2 separate regions of the Homo sapiens genome follow, and region 1 is linked to region 2. The links come from fine-mapping of genetic effects on gene expression. Tissue or cell type: whole blood. Region 2 holds a variant in brackets; the other region holds the start of a gene. All regions are shown on one strand. Distances are from middle to middle.

Region 1 (8,105 bases), 50 kb before region 2:
AGGCAGGAGAATCGCTTGAAGCCGGGAGGCAGAATTGCAGTGAGTCAAGATCGCGTCACTGAACCCCAGCCTGGGCGACAGAGAGAGACACTCTCAAATAAATAGCCCAGAACTAGCTGATTATTTATGAAAAACCTAAGAACTCTGTAATTACCCCATCTTTCCAGGTTGGAAAACAACAAAGCTGTTAGAATATTAAGGTGGCCTATGAGATTAGTCCTAACAACAATCTAGTTTTTAACAATTCTTCCAAAAGAGTTCTAAATCTTTACCTCCCATTTAGTAAACAAACTTCTCAGATTCAGACTTCTGATTAGAGGTAAAGGGTATGTGACAACACCAATGAACTGCAAATTCCAATGACTATTATTCTATTAACTTCAGAAGTGGAAAAACAAGGTATGTTAAGAGTTCAAGACCAGCCTGGCGAACATGGTGAAACACCGTCTCTACTAAAAATACAAAAATTAGCCGGGTATGGTGGTGGGTGCCTGTAATCCCAGCTACTTGGGAGGCTGAGGCAGGAGAATTGCTTCAACCCGGGAGGCGGAGGTTGCAGTGAGCCAAGATTGCGCCACTGGACTCCAGATTGGGCGACAGAGCTAGAACCCAGTGGCGGGGGGATGCCATGGGTCAGCTTCCAAGGGTCCTTCATCATCTGTTTTGATGGGAAAGCACCCTATATTGCATCCCAGCTTCCTTGGGCCTTTTCTTTTCTCTAGAATATTCTTTTCTCTAGAATATCCAGGTATTCTTTTCTCTAGAATATCCAGACTGGTGGAGACAAGAATCATTCCTCAGGCTACTAGTATCCCTTATAAAAGGGAATCTTACTCAATGTCTTTGACCCTATGAGAAGACGGGCAAATCATAGGCTATAAGCTGCTTGTAACATTTGAAGAAATAAACTATTTGCCTTCTTTGTGGTTAGTGTACAGAGAGACAGAGAGACAGACAGACAGATACAAGGAATATAGATCGTCTAGAAGTAAAAACAGGGAAGACTGATAAACCAAGAGAATAGACACCTATATCCTCAAGCGTACTCAAGTCAGCTCTGAAATTCACCCAGATGTGTGGCTCATTGCCTAGACCAACATATACATCTGGTAATAATAAACACTGATATGTCATAAACAAAAAGAGTTTCTTTAACTCTACAAAGTACTAGTAATATTAAAATTTACATAAAGACAAAGAATATATATGAAATAGATTTTTTTAGATGGTATTTCAACTTAAGTAACTGTATTAAGAAATGAAAAACTGGTATTTTACTGCCTAGTTTTCAAAACACTAAAATCTTTAATTTGACCAAGTTACAAATCTGTTTTCAGTAGAGGGAGAAAACACACTGCCTCCGTTCAATGCAAAGGACAAAAAAGATCATCACTGCAAATCATAATGTTTGGGTTCATGATGAAAACAGGAAACAGACAGGCTGCCCAGGTATAATTATGGTTGTAATCTAATGTGCCTTCAGGTTCAGCCAAGAATTAAAACCCAGTGAAGAGGGTAAGCAGAATTTACTTGCCTCTACTTTGCTGCAGAATGCAACTTTTAATAATACTCCCAGCAACATGTTACATAACCAACAGTAAACAACAATCTGATTCAAACCTCATTAGTAACAACATTCTGCCACTGTCTCCCACTGAAATTAATAGCTGACTTTGCCAGAGGGGAAAGAAATCCAACACATTATCAATCTACCCATTTCTGTGGCGCCTACCACAGTGAACCAGACACGCAGATAATACTACCAGATCTGTACAGAACCTACGAAAATATTTTATTCTTTTTTTCCAGTTTGCTGCTCTCTTCCTCCTTTTAACTAGACCATATCATGTGGATGCCTTTAAAACCTGAGAGTAAAGTCAGTTGAGAAGGTTAATCTAACTTTTCTTGCTTATTTCAGCTATGATCTGAAAGGAATGGAAGCACAAAATGATGAATAAGGTATTTTTAACAAAGATACATGGGTAAATTAACAGCAGTAATGTAAAAAAGACTGAGGGAGCAACAATGTGGAAAGGGAAGGAAAGGAAGCTGTATAGGAACAATCACACAAATAATCATCAAAATTAAACTTTATAAATCTAAACATAGTATCTACAACCTTTATGAAGGTTAAGTTTTGTTAAATTGTCTAAGTTTTGCATTTTTACAATTTTCACTGTAGAGAAAAAAATATTAATAGTTACCAAAGGAATAAAAGACTAAAATAATTTGTTATACATCTGCAAATAGCTCCTTAAATTTGGAACACTAATTTCATAATGATATTTGGATCCATAAATGTGAAACTGTCACACTGAATGTAGGTACTGTTTTCCCCACAATGGATACTACTGCATTGGCATCTAGCAGAAATTGTAAGCTATTTGGAATGTTACTAAACCTACTGGGACTAAGGTTTTCAATCTTTTGTCTTTCAAATTAAAATTAAAAACTAATTCACTCTGGGCAATTCAGGTACTCTAAGGAAATTCAAGTACTCTAGTTTTAAATACGAATTTTCAAAAACGCAACCCAAGTACCCTTTCCTCTCAACTTCTGTGAGGCCAAGCCACGACCTCCACCTATTCAATCTTTGCTGCTAGATAACAACCCTTTTGGTAGTGCTAGGCAACAGGCATGATGTGACAAACCTAGACATCAAAACTTTTCCACAGAAAGATAAGGTAAACAAGATATACTTAGCGCCACACCCATTTAAATGCACAAGCAACCAAAATTGCTCCCTCCCCCCGCAACACCCCCCCCCCCCCCCCAAAGCTCCAGCTGGTCAGGAAACATTGTCTTTACAATCAAGATAAACATCTGGCTCAGGGTGTTCAGCCATTCCTCACCTACAGGCTTGCCTAAGCCCCATTCTCCAATGCCATCACCACCAGAACCGGAACATTCTGTTGGGAAGCCGGCAAACGTCCAAATACCCCAAGTATCCTCGCCCGAGTTCTGCAACCAAAAATCTGTTTTGGCTACTGAGCATGCTCAGACTTAAGACGGGCGCGCCACATGGGAGTTTTCAAAGCTTAGGCTCCAAACTCCACGTAGTAACAGCAGCTGAAAGGAGGAGAGGGGAAAAGGGGAGGGGAAGAGACTGGAATATTAATTTGAGCCCTGATATTGAAGTATAGGACCCGGCCAGCGGCTGAATATGGTGAAGGCAAAAAGACGCTGCTTTGGCATTCTCTTTGCAGCACAGAGAAGTTTACATGAAGTAGAAGAAATCCTTGCAGTGGTGAAAACTGACATGGCAAGTGGCAGAAACCAGGTCTAACTACCAGCTGATTGCAGTAGCCGGTCACAACTGCCCAGAGTGTAATTCCCACCGATAAGCGCGGATCCTTATCTTTGAAACACAAAGCGACGGCGGCACGGATTCATCAAGCCATTGGACAGCTTCGCAGTGCAGCAGCCCAGGCTGCCCGGCCGAGCACCGCAGTCCTATCAAGGGTGTGTATCCAGGGTGGTACATCCGATGAGTTAGGAAAGCAAACCGCTCCCCAGGACAGCGCGGGGTCAGGGGGTCCCCTCCAGGGCGTCCCAGACGCCTCCCTCCAAAGTCTGGGCGGTAACAGCGGGGCTGGGACGAGGGCCAGCCCCGGCCCCGCCTCAGGACGCCCCGGGCAGCCAGCGAGGCCTCCGCAGCCGCTGGGCCGCACCGTGTCCGCCAGCCGGGACCCCGGCAGGCCAGGACTCGGCCTACCTCCCGCCCGACAGGCCCTGGGTCGTTTCCGCTCCGTCCGCGGCCGAACGCCCCCGCCTCGGCCCGAGTCCGCCGGGGCAGAGCCTGCAGCCCCCAGTTCCCCTCGCCCGCGCGCGCCGGGGACCCTCACTCACTCGCGAGCCGGCTAGGCGCGCTCTCCCGACGCCGTCGCTGCGCTTCTCCTCGCTGCAACTTTATTAGCAGCTCGGCCGCGGGACACGCGCACGGCGCCCGCTCGCCCAGGACCCGGATGAGGGAGGGAGGGAGAGGGAGCCCGGGAGGACGCCCGCTGGGGTCGGCGCATGCGCGCCAGAGGCGGAGTGACCGCTGCGGGACCGAGGGAGGGGTGTCTTGCCCGGGCGGCTGAAAGAAGCCTCCGCGCCGGGCTCCGCGCCGGCCAACGCCGACTTCCGATCAGCTGGAGGCCTTCGCGTCGATGGCCAGGCCTGGGAATGGGAATCAGATAGCTCCCACCACCACCACAGTAGGCGCTAGAAGCTTCCACTAACCAAATCAGTATACATTGTAATAAAATTAAGTAATTGTCCTTGACACAGACAACTGGAGGTTTTCTGTCACATACAAAGTGTAAACAAAAACATCTTCAGATACGACTTAGCTACTTTTATTGATCTGTAATACAAATCTGAATGAAGAGTCTTCTTTCTGTGCAAAGTAGCTTCAAAACATGTTTCTGAGCATCTTACAGCTTCTTACTAGATGCAGCACTAAAACCCCTCCCACGGGGCAATCCTGGAACCCTTGAGGGCCTGTGGAAATGGAGCGAGTGCCCACCCTGGAGTTCCAGGAGTGGGACTGCCCATACACTGGATCGCAACCCCAGTTGTTCAAGACACATAGCCTCTCCACCTCCTTGTGGGGAGGGAGATCCCGTGGGGACCCAGCCCCTGGACAGGCGGGGCCACTGAGTTGCAGAGACACCATCCATAGGCTTATATACACCACCCCATCTCCTGGACTCTCTTTTCTAAGTAATTGGAGCTCTTCTCGATGCTTTTTCCTCCAAATTTCCAAAACCGTCAGTATTTCCTAGAATATAATATTGGTACCACATAGGGTACCCGATTTGAATAGTACTAGTAAGAAAAAGCTTTTGAATAATTTTGTTTTTATTTGAAAAGGTCAATACTGGCTCTCCAATGTTCTATTATAGGTTTTCTTTTTAAAATAAGTAAAAATCAAAATCGGGGTCATTTTGGAATGCTCTTTGACACCCTAATCCAATCCATCAGAAATTCTACTGACTCTTTCTTCAAAATTTATCCTAAATCTGACCATTTCTCACACCTCAATTGCCACCTCCATGGCCCGAGCCAGGGTCATCTCATCTGACACACAAATGGCGCAGCCACTATTTTGCTCCAGGCTCTAGAAGTTTATTTCTGTGGAGAAGAAACTAAATAAATGTCCAGAAGTCTCTGCATTAGGGGTGGCCATCTGAAATGGTGACAGAGGGCTAGTAAAGGAGTGAAGGGGAAGTGGGGGAAGAGACCAGAGAGTGAGTGTCTAGTTCCAGAGACCAAAGGGGTCACTGCTATTTCATTCCAGCCAACTGTTACCATAGGGAAATGTGGGAATAAGGACCCAGTGTTGGCAGATATTCTGATTTTTCAAGCAAAGCTGGAAATTTAGATTTTTATGTGAAAATCTCAATTATATCTGTTTAGCAACTTCTTTCTATTTTTCTCTCTCTTTGCCTGTCTCCTGCCCGCCCCCCACCCCGCTCCCTTCCTCTCACTCTGTTAGACATTCTGGAGGCCAACTACATGCAAGCCAAACAAAACAAATCCATGGTCCCGATTTAGCCTACTGGCCACCAGTTTGCAATTTCAGGTCTCCATCTTAAACTTCTTTACTACATCATAAACTTTGAGAAAGTAAAGTCTGTGTACTTTAACTCTTTGTCACACTCACTGATTATTTGTTGTTAATTCAGAAGTTTCCAGCCCTTGGAAGGCAAATATTTCTGGAGCCTGCATGGGTTTACAACTCCCAGAAGTGCATATAATCCTGCCTTGGAGGATACGTTTTTTTTTTTTCCAGAACTGATGTTTGCAGAGTGCTTTGTTGAACATTATAGGACATAACAATTTGGTTTAAATATTTTGTATAGTAGAGATACTCCTCACTTCAAACAGCCAATAAAATCCTTCCCAAAACAAATTATTTGCTGTTTTGCAGTCACTGTACATACGTCAGAAGAATTTGTGATTACAAGATTCCTTTTCATAATCACATATGTAATCTCATAGCCAACAGTTTTGCTTCCTAAGTTATGTGTCCACATACTGATCAAATCAGCCAGCAACTCCAGCCTCTCCAACTTGCTATTTGAGCTCAGTTTAGGTCTAAAGTTGGAAGAGATAACATAGAAGAGAGGAATGGAGATTTTAGTACCACACCAGCAGCCTTCCGAAGGTCTAAGAAATTACCTAGACCTCAAAGACTATGGAAAATCAGAGGGATCACTAAATATCTATACAGTCAAAAACATTATAAAACAGCAAATGAACAGGAATCCCAGAACCATAAGAATGAAGTAAGGAAGTCCCTGTTTTTGGCAATCAAATGGGATCTAAGAACAAATGTAGAACAGGATGATCTGAACAGATAGACATAGTCAGTGGGGCATCAAAATAGACAAACTGCTTTTTTCATTTAGCCATTCACCTGATCAAGAAGACCAGATAAAAGCAACTCCAATACTCAATTTTACTTTACTTGTAGAGAAACCTATTTCTGGACAATTTAGTCCTATAATTCTCAACCAGGGGTGACTGCACCCCCAGGAAACATTTGGCAATGTTTAAAGATGTTCTCGGTTGTCACAACTAGGAGGGCGGTGCTACTAGCATCTAGGCGTTGCAGGTCAGAGACACTGCTGAACATGCTACAATGCACAGAACAGCCTCCTTCTACCAAAAATTAGTCAACCCAAAATATCAGTTGTGCTGTGGTTGAGAAACCCTGATTTAAATCCCAAATAGTTTTTCTTGGGTTGGGTTGATGTTTACAGAAGAAATGATCCTTTCCTTTGAATTTTTTCAATAATCATTTATATTATCAATTTCATGTAGAGAATTAGCCTAAATGTTTAGCCCATGACCTACTCCCTCCTTGAGTTTTTCAGGTCTAAGAAGGAGGCAACTTTCAGGAAAGGTGAGACAATATATGGAAGATGAAGAACTGGAATAATTTAGAAACATTTCTGTATTTTTTAATTTTAAAATGTCTAGTAATTGAGGCAAATTGTTTTTGGTTTGAAAATCATTAATAAATATCTTAATTTTGTAGTTTGCTGTAGCTCAGAAGGCTCTGCCTACATGACTACTGCATACCCTACTGGGAGAATTGGAAGAATGTGATGATGGTAGGAGTCACCCAGCATAGAAGCATGAGTGAATGACATCCCAGAGATCTGCAAAGGATCCTGGTAGCCACTTCAAAGACTTTTTCTCCCTTCCTCAGACAATCATGGCACATGGACATCAGAGGAAGAAATGGCGAAGTTTGTATGACTCCTCCAGCAGAGTCCTTGGAAACAATAAAGCTTCCTTTCCAAATTCTGAGAATTCTGTGTTATTCTTTAATTGGCAGACTGCCCACTGCACCCAATTCTTAATATTGGAAACAGTGCAGAAGCCAGAACTCAACTGAGGAGTTCTGAGATGAGTGAGGTTCCAAGGAAATGATGTGCAGAGGCGCACCCCACAATCCAGTAAGAAAAAGCTCATCATGTTTGTCAGAAGAGATTTCATGTCAGTCTTTAACAGAATGAGCAAACCTTCCATGCTGACCAGAGAATATGCAAAAGTAATTTTATCCAATATTTGAAAGGAGTTTTTTCCAGTAAAATTTTGGTGTTCTGGTGTGAAATGCTTCCCTTATAATCCACAGACCCTTTATTTTCATAGCTCAGAAGTTGAGATCATAATGTATTGAAAAATGAAAAAGTAAAAGAATGACAGCTGCCTCCACTCAAAGCACAGGAATCTGGCAGCCACAGACTCCTTGAAGCTTCAGGGACGGATATCAGAGAATCTGTGACCCCACCCCCGGGAATTAATGTGCACATTTTTGTGTATATACCTACATACAAATTTTCTGCAGAAAAAGCCTATAGCTTTCATCAGATTCTCAAAGGTTTCCTGACCTCCACATGTTTGCAGATGCTTAAGACAGTGGTTACTTTACACGTGGTATAAGTTTAATGTGTCCATTTTAAGGTATCTTTTCTTCTCTTTTTCAGAGCAACATAATTAGGAGACTCCTCTCTAGGGAAGGCAGCTTAATGTAGAGTCTAGAAACCTGGCTTGCCTGTCTCCAGCCATCTGCCACATTAAAGAAGGCCTCCTATGGCTGGAATCCA
Region 2 (8,105 bases):
ATATTCATGTACAAGATTCTGTTTCTATATATGCTTTCTTTTCCCTTGAGTAAATATCTTATAGAATGGCTGGACCATGTGATAGGTGTATGTTTAGCTTTTTAAGAAATTGCCAAACTCTTTCTCTTCCAAAGTGATGATATCATTCTACATCCCCATCAGCAGCATATGTGTTCACATCCTTGCCAACACTTAAAATGGCCTTTTGTTCCAAACATTGTAATAAATGTGGAGTAGTATCTTACTATGGTTTTAACTTGCATTTCCCTAAAGACTAACAATGCTGAGATTTTTTTTTTTCATGTGCTTATTTGCTATCATATATCTTCTTTGGTGAAATGTCTATTCACATCTTTGGCCCATGGAAAAAAATGAGCTGTTTGTTTTCTCACTATTGAGTTATTTTTTATTCTGTATACAAGCCGTTTACCAGGTATACCATTTACAAAGATTTTCTCTCAGTCTGTGGTTTGTCTTTTTATTCTCTTAACAGCATCTTTTAGAGAGCAGAGTTTTAAATTTTGATGTAATTCAGTTGATCAATTTTTTTCTTTTGTGATTCTTTTGATTTTTGATCTTTCATCTAATAAATCTTTGTCTAACTGAAGGTCAAAAAGATTTTCTCCTAGAAGTTGTATGGTTTTTACTTTTAAAATATTTTTTAATTAATTAATTTTTTCTTATAAGTAAGGTCTCACTATGTTTCCCAGGCTAGTATGGAACTCCTAGCCTCAAGCAATCCTCCCACCCTGGACTCTCAAAGTGTTGGGATTACAGGTGTGAGCCACCATGGCCAGCCAAAGCTTCATGCTTTTTAAGTTATATGTTTAAATCTATGATCCAGCATTACTTTTTATTTTTATTTAATGGTTTTATTTTGTGTATGGGAGGAAGTGTGGTTCAAACTTTATTTTTCTGCATATGGATAACCAGTTGATTCAGCCCCATTTGTTAAAAAGACTACACCTTCTCCATCTAATTACCTTTGCAACTTTGTCAAGAATCAGTTATCTATATATGTGTGAGCCTATTTTTGGAGTCTGTTCTGTTCCATTGAACTGTTTGTCCATCTTTACGCCAATACTACACTGTCTTGATTTCTGTAGACTTAAAATTGAGTGGTGATAGCCTTCCGTATTTATTCTTCTTTTTCAAAGTTGTCTGGCTAACATAGGTCCTTTACTTTGTACATAAATTTTAGAATCAACTCGTCAACTTTTTACAAAAAAGCCTGCTGGGATTTGATCAGGAGTGTACTGAATCTGCAGAACAATTGGGACAGAATTGACAACTTAACAATATTGAGTCTTCTGGCCCATGAGCAAGATATGTTTCTCCGTTTATTTAGGTTTTAATTTCTCTCAGAAGTGTTTTGTAGTTTTCAGTTATGGATCTTGCACATATTTTGTCATATCCATTCCTAAGTATTTCATAACTTTTTTGTGCTTTTATAAATGGTACTTAAAAAAATTTCAATGTCTAATTGCTTGTTGCTAATAAATGAGGATACAATTTATTTTTGTATGCTGATCTTGTATCTTGCAACTTTGCTAACTCACTCACTAGTTCTAGCAGCTTTTTCTAGATTCCCTCAGATTTTCTATATTCTGCCAACAATTCTACTTCTTCCTTTCTCAATTGGATACCCTTTATTTCTTTTACTTGATTTATTACACTGGCTAAAACCTTCAATATGATGTTAAAAAAATGGTAAGAGCAGGCTTTCCTGTTTGGTTTGTGATCATAGGAGGAAAACAGTCTTTTCTATTTAAGTATGCTATTAGTGGTATCCCTTTGGTAGAGGCCATTATTACGTTAAGGAAGTTTCCTATCATTCCTAGTTTGCTGGGAGGTTTTTTTTTTAAAAAAATCAGGCATTCCTGATGTTAAAATGTTCAAATGCCTTTTCTGTATCTATCGTTATGATAATGTGAGTTTTCTTTTTTAGTTTTTTAACATAGTAAACTATGTTGATTGATTTTCAAATGTTTAACCAATCTTCCATTTCTGGGATAAACCCCACTTGGTCATGTTGTATTATCCTTTGTATAGATTGTTGGATTGTATTTGCTAAATTATTATTTAGAATTTTTGCATCTATGTTCATAAGGGACATTTTCTGCTGTTTTCTTATAAAGAGTTTGTCTGGCTCATAAAATGAGCTGGCTTCCCTGTTGGCATGCTCTGTCTTTGGAAGGATGCCCTGAGAAAAAGGCCTACATAGATGCTGAAAGCAGGTGGGCACAGTGCCATTCTGGCAGGTGATTTGAGTGTTCTGGTAATGTAGAGCATGATCTAAAAGAGTTCTGGGTTAGGTTATACACTTAAATCTATGCTTTATCATTACCTAAATTTAATTTTTTTAAATGGTTGCGTTTTGTATATGGCAGGAGATAGAGTTCAAACCTTTCCCTTGGTTCCTTCACAGTTCCTTATCACACTGTGGAGAGGTTTCCAGGGAGGGCTCTTTAAAGCATTAGGCTTAGGGCAGGGGCCCCTTTTGCCCAGGACTAAGGCATGCCACCTCCATGAAGCCTTCTGGAATCCTGACTAGCTATCATTTGGAATCCTTGCCTACTATGAATCCCACTTCTTCTGCAACCTTCCTATATGAATTATGCTAGTGAAAACATTCTCTAATGTATTTTCAACTTTTTTTTTTTTTGCCACTGCTTCTTCTCAACAATGTTTAGACATGCTCCAGGCTCCCATCTGAAAAACCTACAACAAGACAAAGCTCTCCCTAGTCCTGAATATCCTTACAACCCTTGCTCCCTCTCTCCTTTCACAGCCCAACTTCCAGAAAGATTTGAACATGCACACTGTGTCCCATGTCCCATTCATTACTCAGCCATCAAAAAGCTGACTCTCAGTCTCACCACTCCTGCCAAGGTGAACAACATACTCCTTGTTGCCACAGTCATTTGGGAGATTGACTGTGTGCAGCCTCTGGCACTGCTGGCCTCACCTCCATCTTGGTCCCTGTTCTGTTGACTTCTCTAATGCCTTGGTTCTAAGCTTTTTCTTCTCTCACAGAACGCTACATACTGATGCTCCTCTGAGATCTCTTTTCTATTCTCTTCTCACTTGTCAGATTGTGCACCTAAATCCAGATGACTTATCCCATTCCCACTGGTAGCCACGTATGCTTGCTCAGGTTGTACACTGCATAACTCTGGAGAGTACCATTGACATCACAGTCATTCTGAAGGGCAACACCCAGATTTGAGTTATGCACAATTTGGCCATATGTGATAGCCTTGCCTGTACATACTCCAAATATATCACTTGACATCCTACAGAACAATGATCTGTTACATGTCCTGGTTGTAAGGCTTTTGAAGGCTGAAATTACCCCCTTAATCAACCCTGAAGGGCTTGGCACAAAGTAGATGATCTTTAAAGGTATGCTGAATAGATGAGCCTGCCACTGAATTTTAGCCAGTATACATTTCTCCACTGAGAAGTACCACCATTGCACAAGCATGAGATTGAACTTCCTTTCAGACTATATGTCCTTTTGGACTAGAGGAAGAGACTGTTTTCTAACCTTCCCCTCACCAGGTACTCCCATTCTTTGAGCCCAACACTAGCTGGACATGCTACTTTACCTTTGAGCCTCAGTTTACTCATCCAGCAAATAAAAGGTTCTACCTTGCAGAGTTTGGTGAAGATTATGGAAGTAAAGTTGTGGAAAGCTCCTCTATCTTCTTTTCACTATTCCAGGGCACTCAGGATAATGCCTCTGACTAAAGGCTACCCCAGGAAAAAATTATTATATTGATCACGAAAGGGCATATGAAGGGCAGGAAACAAAAACCCCAGGAGGTATGTCCTGCCTCACCTGCTGCTAGCCTTCAATTTCAATTCTACTCCAGCTTGTTGGTATCATTTATTAATTAATTCATCCATTCACGTAACAAATGTTGAGCACTTTCTACTGCCAGGTGCTGTGGCAGGCACTGGGAGACAAATAGCATACGTAAGACAGATATGGTCTCTGTCTTCGTGACACTTGTCTCTACCACATTTGGCAATGTCTGGGTTAATGTCTTGTTAATGGTGGAAAGACGTAGGGTGATGCAACAAAGAGTAAGGAGAGTGTGTGGAGAGGAGAGAGGTGGCCTGGCCCTTTAGACAGAGTGTTCAACAAAGAGTTCTCTGAGGTGGTGGCATAAGAATTGAGTGTTAAAGAATGAGATTGGAGGGTGGGGAATCTCTGAGAAAGAGTGAACAGGATGGAAAGGGCATGCCTGAGAAACCAGAGAAGGCAAGGTGGTTGCAGCAGAGCAAAGAAAGAGGAGAGGGGCACCAGGTACTGCCAGAAAGTTAGGTGGGCACCTGATCATCCAGTAAACCCTGTCTGGATTGGATTATAAGAGAGGAGGTCTTTCAAGGTGCTGAGCTGGGAGGGGATGTGATTTGATTTAGAGTGTACAAAGACAGGGGATTTCCTTACTGTCCAGGGACATTTCCCCACCA[G/T]GGGGAGCACCTGGAACGCACCCGCTGGGTCCTTTCTGCTGGCCAGTTTTCATTACTAAATCCAGGCTCCAGGCAACGAAGCCAGGGCTGGATCAGATCAGCAGCTGGAAATGGCTAGCGGGGAAATGGTCATTGGCAGTTATTTTTGTAATTGTTTACCGAGACTACTAGGTACCTAGCCTGAATAAAATGTGTTATTTCAGCATAACTTCCCATACCTCCCTCCATCAGGGGTATGTTATCAATAGCCCCATTTTTGGATGACAACTTGGCAATTACAATGAACATATATGCTATTCAGCCCAGCAATTCCACTTCTGAGAGTTTATCCTCACATTCATGAAATTGCCCATGTTCACAAAAAGGCGTGTGCAAAGGTGTTCATTGGAGCGCTATTGGTAAACTCATGGAAAAAAACAAACAAACAAAAAAACCTTCAATGTCTAGCCCTAACAGGGGATGGCAAAACAAATCATGCTTCATGCACTCTTGGGGAGCCATTATAAATAATGAGGGACCTCCCAGGCATGCTGTGGAATTTCCCACAAAGCAGGTGCAGAACAATGTGTACAGTGCAGTCCTTCATATCAAAACACAGCCATAACCCAAATAAAGCTATATATTTTTAATTATCTTTATATAATAGAAAGAGGACTAGAAGGAGACACAGCAAAATTTTAAAAAACAGTGGTTACCTCTGGGGAGAGATCTGGATTGGAAGCTGCAGTTAGGTCAAGGGTGGTGGGCTTTCACTACCTTTATTGTTTTAATTTTTACTGTACTCGTGGTTTTTGTTTAATACAAAATGAATATGAAAAACAATTAAAAAGTTTAAAGCTACACAGCTAGGAAGAGGGGAAGCTGGATTCAAACCCAGGTTGGGACAGCGCAGTTTCTAGTATAATGGGGTCCTACTATCCCCAGTCACTCACTCACTTAAATGTTTATTGAGTGTCTACTGTGGACCAGGCTAGGAACTGAGGAGGATATAGGGAGACAGCAAAGAACAGAATGGAAGATCCCTGTCTAGTGCAGCTTACCAGTTGTTTGAGATACTTTTAAGCAAGACAGGCAGACAGACATACACTACAGGCAACTCTTTCTTGAGAGTTCAAACTTTGGTTCTGTTCCTGAATATGTCACTTTTTGTTAATTCCTAACATTTCAGTTACTTACCACCACTGATTCTCAGTTTATTCATTTGCAAAATGGGGGCAACATTATGGATCTCAGAGTTGTTCCGGCCATGAAATGAGGTAAATGTTTAACCCAGAGCGTGGCACATGGTGTGTGTGTGCTCAACAAACAGGGACATTATTAATATTCTGAAGGTCCCATTTTCTTTGTTAGCAATTTTCTCCATCCAGCTCCTGAATCTTTCAAAAGAAAAGTAGTGTAGACAAGGGGATGGGTTGGGGAAAAAGAGGAATGATTTATTCTCCTTCAGCCTTAACAGAGCGTTTCTCTTGAGCTATGAAGCTTTTAAATCTTCAGCCTGTGATCTCAATTCTGGGCTTACTCCTGGGCCCTAGTGCCCTGCTAATCACTCATTAATTCATTCAACTCCCCACCCAAAGAGGATTTGCTGATGATGAACTCCGTCTCCAGGGTCCAGCCCAGGACCTGGCAAGAAATGAAACCACAGAACCCCTGCCTTTGGCAAGTTCATAGGCTGCTTCGGGGAGATTTTATGGAGGCCTTAGGCTGCCCCCGTCTGCTGGAGAGAACCCCGAAAAGCCTTTGGCGGGGGTACTCCTCAGCAGCCTGGCTGCTGGACCTAGGTAGACGGCCCACACGCCCCCCCGCACCCTCCTGCCTCCCCTCCAGTGGGTGGATTTTGCCCCCTTCCACGGTTCCCGCGCAGGATGCGGGCGGGAGGAACTGAGAGTCCCTCCAGGACACGTTAGCAGGACGCCTGGCGCAGAGCGGGCGAGACCGCATGACGCAGGCCTCTCGGGGGCGGGGAGCACATGCAGCCCGTCCCTCTCCACATCGTCACTCTTCTATGGTTTAGAAGTTTCAGTCGCACACTCCTACCCGGGTCGGAGTTAGCTCAAGCGGTTACCTCCTCATGCCGGACTTTCTATCTGTCCATCTCTGTGCTGGGGTTCGAGACCCGCGGGTGCTTACTGACCCTTTTATGCAATAAATTCGGTATAATCTGTCACTCTGAAGGCTTTGTTATTTTTTATCCCTTTTAACTTTGCTAAATTAATAGGCTGATAACATAAGTTGGTGTCACTTTGAAGGTGTGACAGAAAGTATGGAGGCTGGCCACTGGTCTTACAGGGCGTGCGTGACCAGCCTGTACTGCCAGGTAGGACGCATGGGGACAAAAAAATGCTTGTGCAGTTCACGAGACACACCTGGAAGCTCCGAGACCCCACAACTTCGGACCGCGGAGTGCGTTATGGATTTCGTCCCAAGTAGGACGGAAGTTTAACAGCAATAGCTGCCGTCTACTGTTTTATCTGTATGACTGTTTTTTTCACATATATTGCCACCCGCCAGGACTTGCCTGTTGGACCACAGCGAGTGAGACTCGCTCCGAATTTTTCTTTACGTCTTTGAAAGTTCCAAGTTTCTTCCTCCCTGGCGGCCTGTACCTACGCTATTCTCACCTGTTCGCATCGTGTCCAGACATTTTATGCAATTTGTCTTTACCTTTAGCGTGGGGGCTCCCCCCTAGAAGCCATACAAGGGCAGGGGCCTCTCCCCTTGCTGTACTTACAGCGTCTAGTACATTGTTGACCAGATTTGAGTATTAGCTGATTTAAGTAGCTTAATGCACAGGGACATGCACATGTGTTTTTCATATTAAATCCCTATAAGTAGAATTGTGGAACACAACTTGCCTATACTTAGGGCTTTAGATTGAAGTGGCCTCAGTTCCCTTGGGAAAGTCTAGGCTGGTATGGGGAGGGGTCTTTTTCAGGGGAGAAAATGCCTGCGTCTCTGGGGAGGCAGAGAATGCAAGCCCAGAGGCAGTGGGTGTTCGCAGTGATGGGCTCCTGGGGGCGCTCTCGGGCGGCCTACAATCCAGAATCGTCTTCTTGTCCCTTGACCCGGTTGCGGACCACTGAGCAGCTGTTCCGCCTTGCTCTGGTACCACCATACGCACCTTTGATCAGGCCCGGCCCTCGCATTCACCAAGTCTTTTTGCCCTGGTAGTGCCCCTACCTGTGGTGCATGTTGCGCCGCACTTAAATTTTGGTGGGGGCACCTCCCCTCCGGTGTGCGCCTCCGGTCCCGCGCGCCTCCTCTCCAGTGTGCACCTCCCCTCCTATGCCCGCCCCCAAGCAGAGAGCCCCAGGGACTGCTGGCGGGCCCCCTGCTACACCTAGGGCTAGTGGGAGTTCCTCCCTCAGTTTGGCAAGCAGGAGAAGGACCTTGGAGATTCACGGACCCCCTCTGTTCCCCACCCAAGAGGTTGGACTGAAGGATCCTTATAGGGGTTTGGGAACAGCGAACATCAGGAGCGAGCACCTCCCTCTGGGAGAGAAACAACCCAGGCACAGAAAGAGGAGCCCAAACTTGAACCTTTCAGGGGAGAGAAACTGAGCTAAGGGGAAAACTATTGAGCTAGACCTATGATAGAAGCCAAGATATTAGCAGTGGTGTTG

Evidence for each region. PIP is the estimated chance that this variant, and not a neighbour inherited with it, causes the effect.
Region 1: SMAD5 starts here. The variant in region 2 is fine-mapped to the expression of SMAD5 in whole blood (TOPMed, PIP above 0.99).

What each region holds. Positions count from the first base shown.
Region 1 is chr5:136,128,707-136,136,811 of GRCh38, reverse strand. It overlaps SMAD5 (SMAD family member 5), which reads right to left and starts at 3,967. Exons shown (of 8, transcript NM_005903.7): 1 at 3,850-3,967. It overlaps SMAD5-AS1 (SMAD5 antisense RNA 1), which reads left to right and starts at 1,922. Exons shown (of 2, transcript NR_026763.1): 1 at 1,922-3,462; 2 at 7,031-7,299. RefSeq lists a silencer at 3,614-4,253 and enhancers at 4,564-4,613, 4,644-4,703.
Region 2 is chr5:136,079,014-136,087,118 of GRCh38, reverse strand. It overlaps VTRNA2-1. Among named protein-coding and RNA genes, the nearest start is that of SMAD5, 50 kb to the left of the region's middle. The variant G/T (reference allele first, on the strand shown) is at 4,483.